4 linked regions of the Homo sapiens genome follow. The protein of the gene in region 3 purifies or fractionates together with the protein of the main gene of each other region. This does not show direct contact. Each region holds a gene or a part of one and is shown on either strand. Other genes may lie near its edges.

Region 1 (4,189 bases), on a different chromosome or scaffold from region 3:
ACTACTATGCAGATGATGTAACTGAGGAGCAGGGTGGCCTTGGGACCCATTCGAGGCTCCCTAGCCAGACAGTGGGGGTGCCAGGCTGTGGATCAGGTGAGCTGACTACAGTGGTTGTGTTCATAAGCCCTGTCCCAGGATCCTGGGACTGCAGATGGGGGCAGGAGGTAGTTCACACCACTGGTGGTCATCTCAGATGGCAAATGGAAGGAATTGTTTTTCTTTGAATAGTCATGGAAGTACTGCATGTATATATTTTAAAAATTGGAACCAGCTCATCGGTGCTGTGATTTCACAGGTATTGGGCACAGGGCCACACCAACGCAAGTCTTCCAAACACAGGTTTAAAGAAAAGTGTTAAGGAGCTCATTATAAAGTAATTTTCATTTGTAGCAAAAATCGGGATGGTGACTGTGGCCGTGCTGCAGTGTGGGTGACATTGAAAACCACAGTATCAATTCCCCACTGCACGGGTATTAAAAATGAGTGGGGAGTGGAGGTGGGGTGAAAGCCTGGGGTTTGGGACGCGTCTGTAGGTGGTAACTCCCCGCATTACGTCCCCTCCAATTGCCAATCCCCCAACCCCGTGGCTCACGCTGTTCCCTCCTGTTAGCTTTCAGGTCCTCCCTGGTTTCACAGGGACTTCTCCCTCCTGGGCTCTCATCCACCACCCCTGGGCCTCTGTAGAGCTCAGCTGTCCCTACAGTGAGGCAGGTGCCTAAAAGCAGAAGATCTGCCTAGCTGTGCAGCCTTGCCTGGCAGCTCTCCTGCTCTGGGCCTCTGGGGCTGCCCAAGTTGGGCCATGGACAAGGTGGGCACTGTCCAATCCCTTGCGTTTACCTTTTTCCAATCGGTGTACACGACATCTGACTTGGGAATGCGCAAGCAGTCGAGAGCTTCGTAGAACTCTCCCAGTTGCTCCTTGGTCGTCTCTGGCTTGTCAGCTGCAGGGGGAGCAAGGAGACTGACTGGGGACATGGTGGGGCCCGGCGGGAGGCCAGGGAGGGCTGGGGTTCTAGGGGCCAGCCCAGGGGTGGGTGAATGGGGGGTGAGGCCTGAGAGGGGCATGAGTTTGGGGCTGCTAAGCATGCCTACCATAGACAGACAGCCCCCAGTTCTTCTCATCGTTCACGTCAAAAGCAAGCATGTAGGTCTTGGTGTCCCTGAGGATCAGCAAGTGAGCGAAATGCTCTTGGCCTCCCACTGGAAGAGAAAAGGAGCCTCTGGGTGAGAACATGGGATGGCACAATGGTGTCTGTCTTACAGGTGAGGAGGCCTAGGTGTGTCAGTGGCCACACAGCCCATCAGTGAAGGCCCAGGGCTCCTTTGGGCCACCGTGTGCCCAGCCCCTGCTGCATGCCCAGCTCCACGCCAAGCACTTTCTGTACATGAGATCTCAGGAGCCTCACACAGACCGTGGCTGTCAGGGCCTTTCTCCGTTTTACAGATGAGGAAAATGAGGCCCAGAGAGGAGGCTCGGGATGCTAAATGGTGTCAGTTCAGCTCCATCAGCTCCCTGCCATGTGCCACCTCTGCGGTGATGGGGGACATAGTTGAAGGTACCACCTCTCCAACATACAGGCTTCTACCATTGGTTTGCAAAGGATCTTAAAGAGGGCATGAGAGAGAGGCAGATCTGAAGCCAGCCTGGAGTTCCAATTCTAGTTCTAATTATAAGCTGTGTGACCTTGGGGAAACTATTTGAGGTCTCTGTTCTTCTTTTTCCTCCTCTAATTCTCTCAGTGTCCTCTTAGAGTTGTTTCTGAGCACATCGTTAGAGCTCAAAAATGTTAGTGGTTATTTCTCTGTGCCCAAAGCCTCCAGGGCTCTACATCCAGCCCCCACCTTATGCTGGCCTGCCCTGTTCCCACAGTGAACCCTCCTGCCTGAGGGCTGGCCCTCACCGTATCTGGAGATGGTCCCATTTTCCCGCTGGACATTCAGGTAGGTGGTGTTATAGATGCACTGGTCCTGTCTAAAGCCAAACAGAAGGCGGAAGGAAAACAGGAAGATTATTGAGAAGTGGCCAATCGCCCATCACAGTCCTGGGGCAAGAGTCTGGTGGAGATTAAAGCCAGCCCTCCCGGTTCCACCCATGGGAAGGCCAAGGCCAGGAAGAAGGAGGGACTTGCTCAGGTCTTCTGGCCAGAAGCTGAGATGGGGGTGCATTGGAATGGGGGCTCTCACCGGGTCTGGTACTCTCTGAGAAAGATCGTGTCCTCTGTCTTGTTGGGGGTGAAGTAAAAGAAGGTTGCTTGGATCTCCTGAACCGACTTATTGTACTCCTCGTTTCGAAAGGCCGATGCGATATAAAACCACTTGCCAGTGATCTGGGGAGAAGGTGGGAGCTGGTGATGGGGGCTTGATGCTGAATCTTTGACTGTCAGCTGGGAGGAGACTCAGGCAGATCTCTCCCTGATTTTGCAGATGGGGAGATGAGGCCCCTGGTGGGCAGTGCGCATGCAGGAGCTCACCCTGAGGATCAGTCATTGCCCCCCAGGCAGCCCCTCCAGGCCCAGCACAGAACCGTCCTCCGTGAAGGACTCTGCAGTGAGGCTTCTGTGTTTGGAGGCAGGGGGTGCCTCCAGAGTCCCCTGGGCTGGTGAGAATTTCACCCTGGGGACCCAGAAGAGAAAAAGGCAGAGCCGGGAGTGGGGGTCCGACCACAGCCAGCAGGGAAAGGGAAGCCCAGAGAAGGGAGGCAGCTGCCCATGTGCTCAGGACAGGGCTAGCCCAGGCACTCACCCGGTCCAGGGTGGCGTTGGTGATGGGCACCGGTACTAGGTTGGCACACAATGGGATCTGGGCTTCCAGCAGAGGTAGGAGGCTCAGGACTGTAAGAACCCAGGACAGCGCCATACTGAGACCAGGAGGCACGTGGAGCCAGGCAGTGCTGGTGGCTGCAGGGTGCAGTCACCTTTATAATAAACTATGGGCGGTCACTTGGAGCCCAGCAAAAGTTTACTCTGTGTCTGTGACACAATCCTGCCAGCACTTGGGAAATGCCTCGCACAAAACCTCCCCCAAAGGCCAGCTCGGAGCACCGCCTCCAAACCCAGGTCTAATTTGAGTTCCTCACATGGAGAGGTTACAAAAGCCCTAGAGTATGGCTGCCCAAGGCCAAGGTGGGTGCGGGGCTGCAGCAACATTAGTAAACGTGTGAGTCCACAGATTTCCTAGAGAGGCCTCCCGCAGAGGAATCTCATGTCTTCATTCAATTCCTATCCCTCTGAGTGCCAAGACTTACTTCAGTGGGACCCAGCCACAAACCTAATGATGAAGCCACCTTTGAGGGTCCCCAGGCTGGCATGGGATGTATGTTGTGGCGGGGAGAGTTGGGGTGAAGGATGCCGGGGAAGACAAACATAGATTCAGTTCCACTGAGTGTGGCAACAGCTGTGTCAGAGCCAAAGTTCATTGGGGCCCCAACCCAGCCCTGGACGCAGGCACATTTCCAAAAAGGGACATCCAAGTTGAATGTCTATTTCCAGTAAATATACTACTCGAAGCATCTCCCAACATCTCAAACAGGAAACTGTCTCCCTGTTTTCCCCCATTCCCTGCCATCTGAGCAGGCAGCTTGCTTCTCTTTCACCAATACGCCCCCAATCCTGGAGCAGTGCCCAGCACTTCAAGGGCACTCGGTATATTCTGTGGAATGAGTGATTCCGTGGCCCATTTGTGTTCCTACCTCACGGGTCAAGTCTTTATTTGTATGAATAAATACTTTCAGAAAGTATTCATTTTTTTTTTTTTTTGATACGGAGTTTCACTCCCGTCCCCCAGGCTGGAGTGCAATGGCTCAATCTCGGCTCACTGCAACCTGTGCCTCCTGGGTTCAAGCGATTCTCCTGCCTCAGCCTCCTGAGTCGCTGGGATTACTGGTGCCCTCCACAACGCCCAGCTAATTTTTTTTGTTGTTGTTATTTTCAGTAGAGATGGGGTTTCTCCATGTTGGCCAGGCTGGTCTGGAACTCCCGACCTCAGGTGACTCACCCGTCTCGGCCTCCCAAAGTGCTGGGATTACTCAGAAAGTATTCTTACGGTATGATTATAATTTTGCATTCTTATTCATTTCATTCTGAATAACTTTCATATTTCAGTGTAGTTTGTAGTTAAAAGCTTAATGGACCCAAGATGGGAGAGTCACCTGAGTCCTGGAGTTCAAGACTAGCCTGGGCAACATAGT
Region 2 (3,004 bases), on a different chromosome or scaffold from region 3:
GGCGGGCCGAGATGCCGTCCTGCGCTGCGAGGGACCCATCCCCGACGTCACCTTCGAGCTGCTGCGCGAGGGCGAGACGAAGGCCGTGAAGACGGTCCGCACCCCCGGGGCCGCGGCGAACCTCGAGCTGATCTTCGTGGGGCCCCAGCACGCCGGCAACTACAGGTGCCGCTACCGCTCCTGGGTGCCCCACACCTTCGAATCGGAGCTCAGCGACCCTGTGGAGCTCCTGGTGGCAGGTGACGTTTCCCTGGGTCCCGGGTGCTGGTTCCGTCTGCTGATGTTTGCCTGGGCTGTGCCCACCTCCAGGAGGGCCTCTCCCGGCTCCTCCCTTGGGCACCCCTGGTTAGCGCTGGGTCTCCCCAGGGCTCGTGGGGGAATTGCGGGCGAGGAACCGCCCAGCAAAGGCCCTGCAGCTGGAGGCGCAGATGGGGGTCTCGGCTGGCAGCCGACCACGCGCTTCCTTCCGGGGGGGCGTCAGGGAGGTCGGCCTTGATTTCCGCGAGGAGGAGGGCATAGGATTTCCCCTCCTCCACCATTTCTCTTTTCTCCCGTTGTCTAGAAAGCTGATGCAGCCGCGGGCCCAGGGTGCTGTTGGTGTCCTCAGAAGTGCCGGGGATTCTGGACTGGCTCCCTCCCCTCCTGTTGCAGCACAAGGCCGGGGTCTCTGGGGGGCTGGAGAAGCCTCCCTCATTCCTCCCAGGAATTAATAAATGTGAAGAGAGGCTCTGTTTAAAATGTCTTTGGACTCCCAGGGCTGAGTGGGCTGGGATCTCGTGTCCTCAAAGTGGATGGGTTCTGGGGTGGCTCCTGAGGTAGAGGAGTGGAGAACTGGCTCTTAAGAGCACAGTTTTCTTTTCTTTTTTCTTTTTTGAGACAGGGTCTCACACTGTCACCCAGGCTGGAGTGCAGTGTTGCAGTCCGGCTCACTGCAGTTTTGACCTCCCAGGCTCAAGCGATCCTCCTGCCTCAGCCTCCCAAGTAGCTGGGAGCCTGGGCATGCATCGCCACGTCTGGCTAATTATTATTTTTTGTAGACAGGGTCTCACTGTGTTGCCCAAGCTTGTCTTGAACTCCTGGCCTTAAGTGATCCTCCCACCTCAGCCTCCTGAGTAGCTGGGACTACAGGCATGAGCCACCATGCCTGGCCAACTCACATTTTTCTTTCTATTATTTATTTTTTGTAGAGATGAGTCTCACTATGTTGCCCAGGCTGGTCTTGAACTCTTGGGCTCAAGTGATCCTCCCGCCTCAGCCTCCCAAAGTGTTGGGATTACAGGTGTGAGCCACAGCACCTGGCCAACCAACACTTCTCAGGGCCTCTTTCATCTGTGCTCTTCCAGGATGCTGCCTCTTACTCCCTGGGCACCTCGGCCTGGTCCCAGCAGGTATGGGCAGTTGCTTGAGGCTCCAGACATACTCACCTCTACCTCGACCACATCAACCCCATCACCAAGAGGAGGTTCAGGGAAGCTGCATTTTGTGGTCTTGTCCTCCCAGTCCAGGGTGGTAGTGCTGGGCTGTTCCCAGCCTCCCACAGCAGAGCTGGACGCTGTGGAAATGGCTGGATTCCTCTGTGTTCTTTCCCATTATCCCTCAGCTCTGAGTCCTCTTGTGCCATCTGACATCTGATGCCTTCCCAACCACTGCCGAGTTTCTGCCTGGAGCAGGGCCTCAAGGCCCTGGCACACAGAAGATGCGTATCAGTATTATCAACCAATAGTTGATGAATTGTGTTTTTCAACGAATTTGCTAGTGATCTGGTTTACTGCCTTAGTAATATCTAGTTCCTAATATGCCTATGCCTTTTAATGTCTGCACAGTCTATGATGATGTCACTTCTCTCAAGCCTGATGTGTCCTCTCTCTCTTTCTTGCTAGTGGTTTATCAATTTTTAAAACCTTTTCTTGTTTATTTGTTTTTGAGACAGAATTTTGCTCTTGTTGCCCAGGCTGGAGTGCAATGGCGTGATCTTGGCTCACAGCAACCTCTACCTCCTGGGTTCAAGTGATTCTCGTGCCTCAGCCTCCTGAGTAGCTGGGCTGACAGGCACCCACCACCACACCCAGCTAATTTTTATGTTTTTAGTAGAGATGGGGTTTCACCTTGTTGGGTGGCCAGGCTGGTCTCCAACTCCTGAGCTCAAGTGATCCACCCGCCTCAGCCTCCCAAAGTGCTGGGATTACAGGGGTGAGCCACCACGCCCAGCCCCAGCTTAGTTTTTTAAAAAGTTTATTTTAGCCATTCTAATAGGTATGTAGACATATCTAATAGTGGTTTTCCTTGCGTTTCCTTAATGTCTGATGATGTTAAGCATTTTTTCCCCAAGTGCTTAGTTGCCATCTATATAGCATCTTTGATGAAATGTCTGTTTATATATTTTGCACACTTTAAAATATTGGGTTGTTTTCTTTTTTCTTCTCTTTTCTTTTTTCTTCTCTTTTCTTTCTTTTTGAGAGAGTCATGCTCTGTTGCCCAGGCTGGGGTGCAGTGGCATGATTTCAGCTCACTGCAACTTCCGCCGCCCAGGTTCAAGCGATTCAACTCCCTCAGCCTCCTGTGTAGCTGGGATTACAGGCATGTGCCACCACACTGGCTGATTTTTGTATATTTAGTGGAGAGGGGGTTTCACCATGTTGGCCACACTGGTCTTCAACTCCTGACCTCAAGTGATCCACCTGCCTCAGCCTTCCAAAGTGTTGGGACTACAGGCATGAGCCACCGTGCCTGGCCTGTTTGTTTTCTTACTATTGAGTTTTGTTTGTTTGCTTTTGCTTTTTTTTTTTTTTTCCCGAATCTCACTCTGTTGCCCAGGCTGGAGTGCAGTGGTGTGATCTCGGCTCACTGCAACCTCCGCCTGCCAGGTTCAAGCAATTCTCCTGCCTCAGCCTCCGGAGTAGCTGGTACTACAGGCACCCACCAGCATGCCCGGCTAGTTTTTTGTATTTTTAGTAGAGATGGGGTTTCACCATGCTGTCCAGGCTGGTCTCAAACTCCTGACCTT
Region 3 (4,208 bases):
TACCACAGTGTTTATAGGACCATTATATAGGTAAAACAGATTTTGAGTCTGCAGATATTTAATAAGATTATCACAAAAAGTTCCATTACATCTTTAAATATATAAATACTGATGCCGCATTTACAAATAATGAATGGAAATTTTTATATAAGAGGTAATATTGAAATGACCTAATATCTAGGAAGAAAATAGTTTTAAAGTATTTTCAACAGTAAACGAAAATTTGAGGTCTAGCTTATCCTGGCTTTGATACTTGTTGTGATAATCTAGCACACAGTCTTTAACGCCTATGGAGTGCTGGGTTTTTTCACCTGCAGAGTGTTGCAAAATTTCAAAGATCGACAAGTATTTCTTCTAAAATAAAATTTTGATCATTCACAATGACAGTTTAGATAGCTTTTTAGAGGATCTGGTTTTGTTTTGTTTTGGAGTTTTTAGTAAGCATACTTTTTGTAAATCGGTAAACAACAAACAAAAAAGTAATGTGTACTGCCTATCCCCAGAATAGGACTACTATCATTGAAAATTGCCTCTGGCAGGGTGCAGTGTCTCACGCCTGTAATCCCAACACTTTGGGAGGCTAAGGCGGGTGGATCACCTGAGGTCAGGAGTTTGAGATCAGCCTGGCCAACATGGTGAAACCTCGTCTCCACTAAAAATACAAAAATTAGCTGTGCGTGGTGGCGGGAGCCTGTAATCCCAGCTACTCGGGAGGCTGAGGCAGGAGAATCGCTTGAACACAGGAGGCAGAGGCTGCAGTGAGCCAAGATGGCACCACTACACTGTAGCCCGGGCGACAAGAGGGAAACTCTGTCTCAAAAAAAAAAAAAAAAAAAAAAAAAAGGCTGGGCACTGTGGCTCACGCCTGTAATTCCAGCACTTTGGGAGGCCGAGATGGGCGGATCACGAGGTCAGGAAATCGAGACCATCCTGGCTCAGACAGTGAAACCCCGTCTCTACTAAAAATAAAAAAAATTAACTGGGTGTGGTGGCGGGCGCCTGTAGTCCCAGCTACTCGGGAGGCTGAGGCAGGAGAATGGCGTGAACCCGGGAGGAGGAGCTTGCAGTGAGCCGAGATCGCGCCACTGCACTTCAGCCTGGGTGACAGACCGAGACTCCATCTCAAAACAAACAAACAAAAAAACAAACAAACAAAAACACAAAAAGAAAAAAGAAAATTGCTTCTGTGACAGCAACTTGAATACTAAAAGTCGGTCCCTGGTTCCAATGGTTGAAGGCACCTTAGTAGTTAAATGTCATCCTACAGTTTAACCAGGTAGCTATTAAAACAGATAACCCAAATAAACAATAACAAGGCATTTGGCTGACCACCCTTTAAAACCTCTGAGGCTTTTCATGAGTGGGAAGGCTAGAATACTATTGAAGTCACTCATTAGAACTATGCTTAACTAATAAAATTATATAGAAGAATGATAATGTACTTCCGTATTTATATTTCAAAACCTTTTTCCTTGGCCAATACTTGTTAGTAAAGTGATTATGGTACTACACCAAGTTTTAGACTGTAAACTCCTAGAAATTATCATTTCAAGTGTGTATTAAATTTCAAGCAAATTTTAAACCGGTTTAAGATTCAGCCTTAAAGAACAGTTAAAATTGATTGAAAATAATCCAATTTCACCGCACTTTATACATCATAGTTGAAATGCAATGAAGACACATTATTACACAATAATGAAGAAGCAAAGATTTGGCCTGTTATCTGGGAAATTAGAGGGTGGACTACCTGGGCTCCTTTTAGCAAAACACTTTTCCAAAAGAAACTTATTTTTGTTTTCTTTAAACAATACTGTCCTGTCCTAAACGAAATCATTTTTAGTCTGTTGAAAATCCACGTGTCTTTGCGTGTTTATTTATTTATTTATTTATTTATTTATTTATTGCAGTGTTCAAAAAAAAAAAAAAAAAGATGCAAGGTTTCCAGCCCTGAGGACCAGGACGCTGTAGCTCCTGTCTCAGTTCAGCCCTAGCTCTAATTGTGACCTTGGGAAATGTCCCTGGCTCGGGGGACTCGGTTTCCCTCTCTTCTCAATTATGAGTGCTCGGAACGTGGGGGTGGGACGGGCCCCCAGCACCGCAGACAAGGGGTTACAGCTCGTCCAGCTTCATGCAAATCCCCAGCCCTCCTCGTCGCCTCGGCTCTTCCCATCCACTCAGCCACTAGCTCGCTCGGAGCAGTGTGCTCCCGGTGCCCCCCGCGGGGTACCCTCGGTTCTGCACGGCGCTCCCCCTTTGTGTCTTGCTGCTAGGAAGGGACCTTGCGATCATCCTTCCATCCGCCGAGAAACGCTCCACCTACCCTTCATTCTCGACCGTGTCTTTCCCGTTTCAGAGAACCCCTCACACTGCTGCCCTCGAGAGACCCCCGCCGTGGCTCTGACCGGGAATCCCTCTCCTTCCCTCCCCTCAGGAGACCTTCCCTTCACACAGCCTTCACCTCCGGAAGAGCCCTCAATTCACACAACCCCATTCTTCCTCAAACTCTCAGGGATTGGCACCCGGCTGCCTTTTGCGGAGCCGCAAAGGACCCTCAGCCTCCCCCACCTCCGTCATCGGGTTCTGGGGACCCCTCTCACCTCCGCGGTGAGAGATGTGTTTACTGAGGAATCGCTGCTTCTTTCTCTGGTGCAGCAAGGTCGGGTATTTAAGCAACAAGAATGAGGTCACCAAGTATCCTCCTAGCGTAGAGAGAAGGTAAAAAGCCGCAGTGGACGACATCTCAGTCACCGTGTGGGAAGTCTCCCACCTCCGGGCCCTCTGAACTCCGCTGCGGCAGTAGCAACGACGGCGGCGGCGGCGGCTGCTCGAGGTCGGCTCGCCCCCAGCCGGTGCCACTGGTGCAGCGCACTTGTCGGTGCCGGCCTACTGCGCACGCGCAGCTGGACCCCAGCGCCCCAGCAACAAAGAGGCTCCGACGCGCAGGCGCTCTCCGGCTCCCGTGTAGGAACCTGCAGAGATCCTGGACTGAGCGTTTGTCACCTAGCTCTGTGGACGGACCCTCATGAAGAGAAAGCTTGCAAACCTGCCAGTGTGTTGGCCATCACTCAAGCAGAAAAGACTATTCACGGGCAGCCTTTCCTAATTGGAAAATCCACATCAAAAAGGAAAGATTCCAGGGCGCGTCTTATCCCTTGCTCTAGAAAATGCAAATAATTTGTACCTATGGAGGCGATAAAGCTTGCTAAAACACTAAATAAACTCCTCCGTTTATCTAGCCTAGAGAGAATTTCCCCTATGGTCGCATATACTAGAAAAGGTACTGGTTTATCAGTCAAATATCTGAGAGATCGGCCCCTGTCCTCCCTCATTTCATTGTGAAAGTGCAATCCTCATTCTTTGTACACAATAGGCACTGTAGAAGTATTTGTTGACTTACAAGTCCGTATAAAATAAGGAAACTTTGTTAAGGTTATAAGGTATTACCTAAAAGTCCTAGAAAGACAGATAACTAAGTTCCAGAAGGCCCTACTAGTTTTCCTTTTACCCGACAAATTACAAACTGCTAACACACGAAAAGCCACACACTTCAATGCAAAAGAAATAAATCACCCAGGACTGAGGGAGAAATTTTACGGAGAAGACCATATCTCCCACAGGACTAGAAAAGCAGAGTGAATATTTAAAATCCTGATTCAGCCGGGCGCGGTGGCCCACGCCTGTAATCCCAGCACTTAGGGAGGCCGGGAAGGAAGGGTGGATCGCTTGAGCCCGGGAGTTCGAGACCAGCCTGGGCAACATGGCGAAACCCCATCTCTACAAAAAATAAAACAAAATAAGCCCGGCGTGGTGGCGTGCACCTGTAGTCACGCTACTTGGGAGGCTGAAGTGGGAGTATTGCTTGAGCCTGGAAAATCGAGGCTGCAGTGAGCTATGACTGCACCACTGCACCCCAGCCTGGGCGACAGAGCAAGACCCTATCTCAACTATAAAAAGAAAATTAGAAGAAAATAGGGGGTGGCTGGGCACGGTGGCTCAAGCCTGTAATCCCAGCACTTTGGGAGGCTGAGGCGGGCAGATCATTTGAAGTCAGGAGCCTGGCCAACATGGCGAAATTCCATCTCTACTAAAAATACAAAAATTTGCCAGGGGTGGTGGCGTGTGCCTGTGATCCCAGCTACTCAGGAGGCCGAGGCAGGAGAATCTCTTGGACCCGGGAGGCAGAGGTTGCAATGAGCCGAGAAGGCGCC
Region 4 (3,599 bases), on a different chromosome or scaffold from region 3:
ACTTGGAGCAGGGGAGTGGCATCATCTCATTGACATTTTTGAAAGATCACAGTACTGCTTTGTAAAAAATCGATAGTAGAAAAGGAAGACAAACAGAAAGAATGACTGGGAGGCTGTGGAAGTCATTCAGACATGTACAAAGAGTAGCTTGTGTACATCAAAGGACACTATCAAGAAAGTGAAAGACAACCTATAGAATGCCAGAAAATATTTGCAAATAACTGATAAGGAATTAATATCCTGAATATATAAAGAACTCCTACAGGTCAACAACAACAACAACACAAATCCCACTTCAAAAATGGCTGAAGGACTTAAATAGACATTTATCTGAAGAAGATACACAAATGACCAAAAAGTACATGAAAAGATCCTCAACATTACTAGTCATTAAGAAAATGCAAATCACAACCACTATGAAATATCACTTATGCTCATTAGGATGGTTATTATTAAAAAAAAAAACAAAACAGAAAATAACAAGTGTTGATGAGAATGTGAAGAAATTGAAACCCCTGTACATTGCTGATGAGCCTGTAAAATGGTGCAGTTGCTATGGAGAACAGTAATGTGGTTCCTCAAAAAATTAAAAATAGAATTACCATTTCTATTAATTATTTTGCATATCCAGCTAGAAGCGGAATCGCTTCTAGCTGGATATGCAAAATAATTAAAAGCAGAGATTTGAACAGTGATATTTGTATAACAATTGTTCATAGCAACATTAGTCACAATAGCCAAAAGGTGGAAATGACCCAAATGTTTATCAACAGATGAATGAATAAACAAAATATGGTATATACATACAATGAAGCATTATTCAGCCTTAAAGAGGAATGAAATTCTGATGCATGCTACAACATGAACAAATCTTAAAACATTATGCTAAGTGATATAAAAGACACAAAAGAACCAATATTGTATGATTCCACTTGTATGAGTTGCCTAGAATAGGAAAACTCATAGAGACAGAAAGTAGAATCGAGCTTATCAGGGGGTGGAGAAAGAGTGGAAGAAGGTTGTTATTGTTTAAAGGGTTCAGAGTTTTCATTTGGGATGATAAAAAAAAAGTTCTGGAAATGGATAGTGGTGACGGCTATGCAATAGTGTAACTGTACTTAATGCTGCTGAATCGTACAGTGCCACGTTTTCTGAAATGGGAAGCAAATTAATTGATTTATCTAATAGTATTCAGTGTTTTCTTAGGACTTTGTCAAGCATTTGATAACTTTTGAACCCATCTTTTTTCATGGACTCAAAACTCATAGTTCTCAAGCTCAGACTCTTACATCAAATACCTTAATAAATATTTAGCAGTCTAGTTACTCAATTTCAGATACCAATTAAAATTTTAATTGCTGAATTAGCCTTTTGTAGTTCCTTTGTGCGGGGGAGAGCATATTTTGAAATAGTACTCTTTTTTTGTAAATTACCTTCCAGGTGCTGTTAAGTTTTCTTTAGTGAAGATGTCTATACCAGAGGGAGCATAGTTCCAGATGATTTCCTCAGCGGCAATGTAGTAGTGTCTAACATGCTTCCCACGGATATTATCCTTTGATGAAGACTTGTTACACTCCTGGACCTGGAAAAAGGCTTGCAAACCGGCTGAAATGAAACAGAAAGAGGCATTGATTAATGAAGACAATGTTTCTCTCTCCTATTGCCCTGTAAACACTGCTCGGGTGATGACAAGTAGAAATTGAAGGAATAGACAGATAGCAACAGTACTATAAACTAGGGCAGACAGCTGTAAATAAATTAATGATGGAAAACTCAAGTTTAAAACAGATATACTTTGTTTTTTATGTACATACAGCATAGAGATATTAAGCATATATGTTTTCAAAATATGGTACCAGTTTCTGTGGGGTTTCACTTGGTAGTTCTTTCAATGAGAGAAAAAGAACAAATCTGTAGATAAGCAGAGAAGAGAGGCTTTGACATATTTTAAGGGGTTGCATTGGGTGGAGGAGGAGGTACAAGGAGGAGGTACCAAATGAGCTTATATTATTGCTGTCTTGTACAAGATGGTTGTGCATCTGCTGTGCTGGGCCTTCTGTGGCCCAGAGCATATTTGATAAAAGCAATTATATTTGCACGTCAAAGTAAAATATCTGAACTCCTATGTTAAACTTAATTTATTCAGTAGACCAATATTAAAAACTAATATTTTTCAAGAACAAGGAATGTTTTTATTGCCTAAGTTAAAGAGATAAAGGAAGGATTTATCGAGTTAAACTAAGGGATGGCCAGGCTCAAATAAAGAACAAAGTTAATTATACTTGACAGAAATAAGTCGAAAAACAGGGTGCTTTCCAGTGCAACATACAATTTTTCTGGATGTTACAACACTGGTATATTTTACAAAGCTGAGTAAGTATATATAGTACTATACTTTCAGGGCCAGTTGTTCTTTCCAAAAACTAATATATTTTCAAATTTCATTACTTTATAATATTCCTGTCTTACAGTCTTTTTTTATTACATTATTATATATACCATCATAGGGATAAAACTAAGATGCCAGTTCAAAGCTCAGATTATTTCAAAGATATTTAGCTTTTAGATTCTGATTCCCAGTAACCACCTTTTTCAGCTGACTGCTAATTTCAGGTAAAGATGTCCTACCTTTCAGATGGTTTAGATTCTGACAGCTGAGCATCCATTCTCCAGGGTTCTGGGCCACCATATAAGCATCAAACAGGGTAGCAGGAAAGAGGTTGATTGTGTCAATACGGTAGTTCTTGTTAGTCAGTGCTTGCCCGTGAAAGAAAGCTGCGTGCACATCAACTTCATTACCCATACCAAAAAGGTACCATTTTACTCTGTCTTCAGCACACATGGAGAGTCCTGGGAGACTTCCAAAAGTGTATCCATTCACAGCTGTAAGTCAAGAGCAGAGTTTGTGACTAAGAGTCATTAATGCTTGAGATAGTGAGAGTTACCTCTATATAAATAGAATCAATTTGGAATGGCAAATATCTGGCACACATGCTGGTATTCTTGCCCCCTATACTCATGTCAGACATTGCTAATCAATCACAGCACTCTTTCATTTTGGAACTGAATTCAGCCTGAGGATTCTTATCAATACCATATTAACAGATGAACACAATACTGAAGATAAAACCTATTTGCTGTCTTTGTTATAAACTGTACACATTGTGTGTGTGTGTAAATACAGAGGTGTGCATATATACATACATATAAACAAAACACACATAGAATTAATAGAAAAAAGATTGAATATTAGTATTCAATCAGTTATTCATCATGTTGGTAGTATGGATGTTTTTGCTTGTCAGAAAATTTCCAATTTTCTACCATAAATTTATTTTGTAAAAAGTACATAAGAATAGCTTTTTTTTAAAGATTGCAAGACAAAATTTTTAAGATTGGAAGAGATATGAAGGAGGGAAAAAATGTAGAAGGGCAGCAGGGACAGAGCCACAAAGACCTAAAAGTTCATAGGCAAGGTGGCCTGAAACCCTCAGAAGAAACTTATGGTCACTGTTCAAACTGGGTGGCCCTAAAAATTTCCCAAGTGGAAATTAGTTCTGGGAAGAATCCTGAGTGCACCACATGTAACACTGGTACCA

What was found.
Region 1: the proteins of GDPD1 (region 3) and ORM1 purify together in Homo sapiens (affinity purification with mass spectrometry; 3 studies listed by BioGRID and IntAct, with this or other methods). This does not show direct contact.
Region 2: the proteins of GDPD1 (region 3) and A1BG purify together in Homo sapiens (affinity purification with mass spectrometry; 3 studies listed by BioGRID and IntAct, with this or other methods). This does not show direct contact.
Region 4: the proteins of GDPD1 (region 3) and CP purify together in Homo sapiens (affinity purification with mass spectrometry; 3 studies listed by BioGRID and IntAct, with this or other methods). This does not show direct contact.

Annotation. Positions count from the first base shown.
Region 1 is NC_000009.12:114,321,804-114,325,992, reverse strand, and holds the start of ORM1 (alpha-1-acid glycoprotein 1 precursor), read right to left. Parts: upstream 2,896-4,189; 5' UTR 2,860-2,895; coding exon 2,746-2,859; intron 2,331-2,745; coding exon 2,188-2,330; intron 1,976-2,187; coding exon 1,905-1,975; intron 1,204-1,904; coding exon 1,096-1,203; intron 945-1,095; coding exon 841-944; intron 1-840. UniProt on the Homo sapiens protein: Functions as a transport protein in the blood stream. Binds various ligands in the interior of its beta-barrel domain. Also binds synthetic drugs and influences their distribution and availability in the body.
Region 2 is NC_000019.10:58,344,588-58,347,591, reverse strand, and holds the end of A1BG (alpha-1B-glycoprotein precursor), read left to right. Parts: coding exon 1-239; intron 240-562; coding exon 563-570; 3' UTR 571-2,409; downstream 2,410-3,004.
Region 3 is NC_000017.11:59,219,141-59,223,348, reverse strand, and holds the start of GDPD1 (lysophospholipase D GDPD1), read right to left. Parts: upstream 2,839-4,208; 5' UTR 2,740-2,838; coding exon 2,598-2,739; intron 1-2,597. UniProt on the Homo sapiens protein: Hydrolyzes lysoglycerophospholipids to produce lysophosphatidic acid (LPA) and the corresponding amines. Shows a preference for 1-O-alkyl-sn-glycero-3-phosphocholine (lyso-PAF), lysophosphatidylethanolamine (lyso-PE) and lysophosphatidylcholine (lyso-PC).
Region 4 is NC_000003.12:149,204,735-149,208,333, forward strand, and holds part of CP (ceruloplasmin precursor), read right to left. Parts: intron 2,884-3,599; coding exon 2,629-2,883; intron 1,606-2,628; coding exon 1,434-1,605; intron 1-1,433. UniProt on the Homo sapiens protein: Multifunctional blue, copper-binding (6-7 atoms per molecule) glycoprotein. It has ferroxidase activity oxidizing Fe(2+) to Fe(3+) without releasing radical oxygen species. It is involved in iron transport across the cell membrane.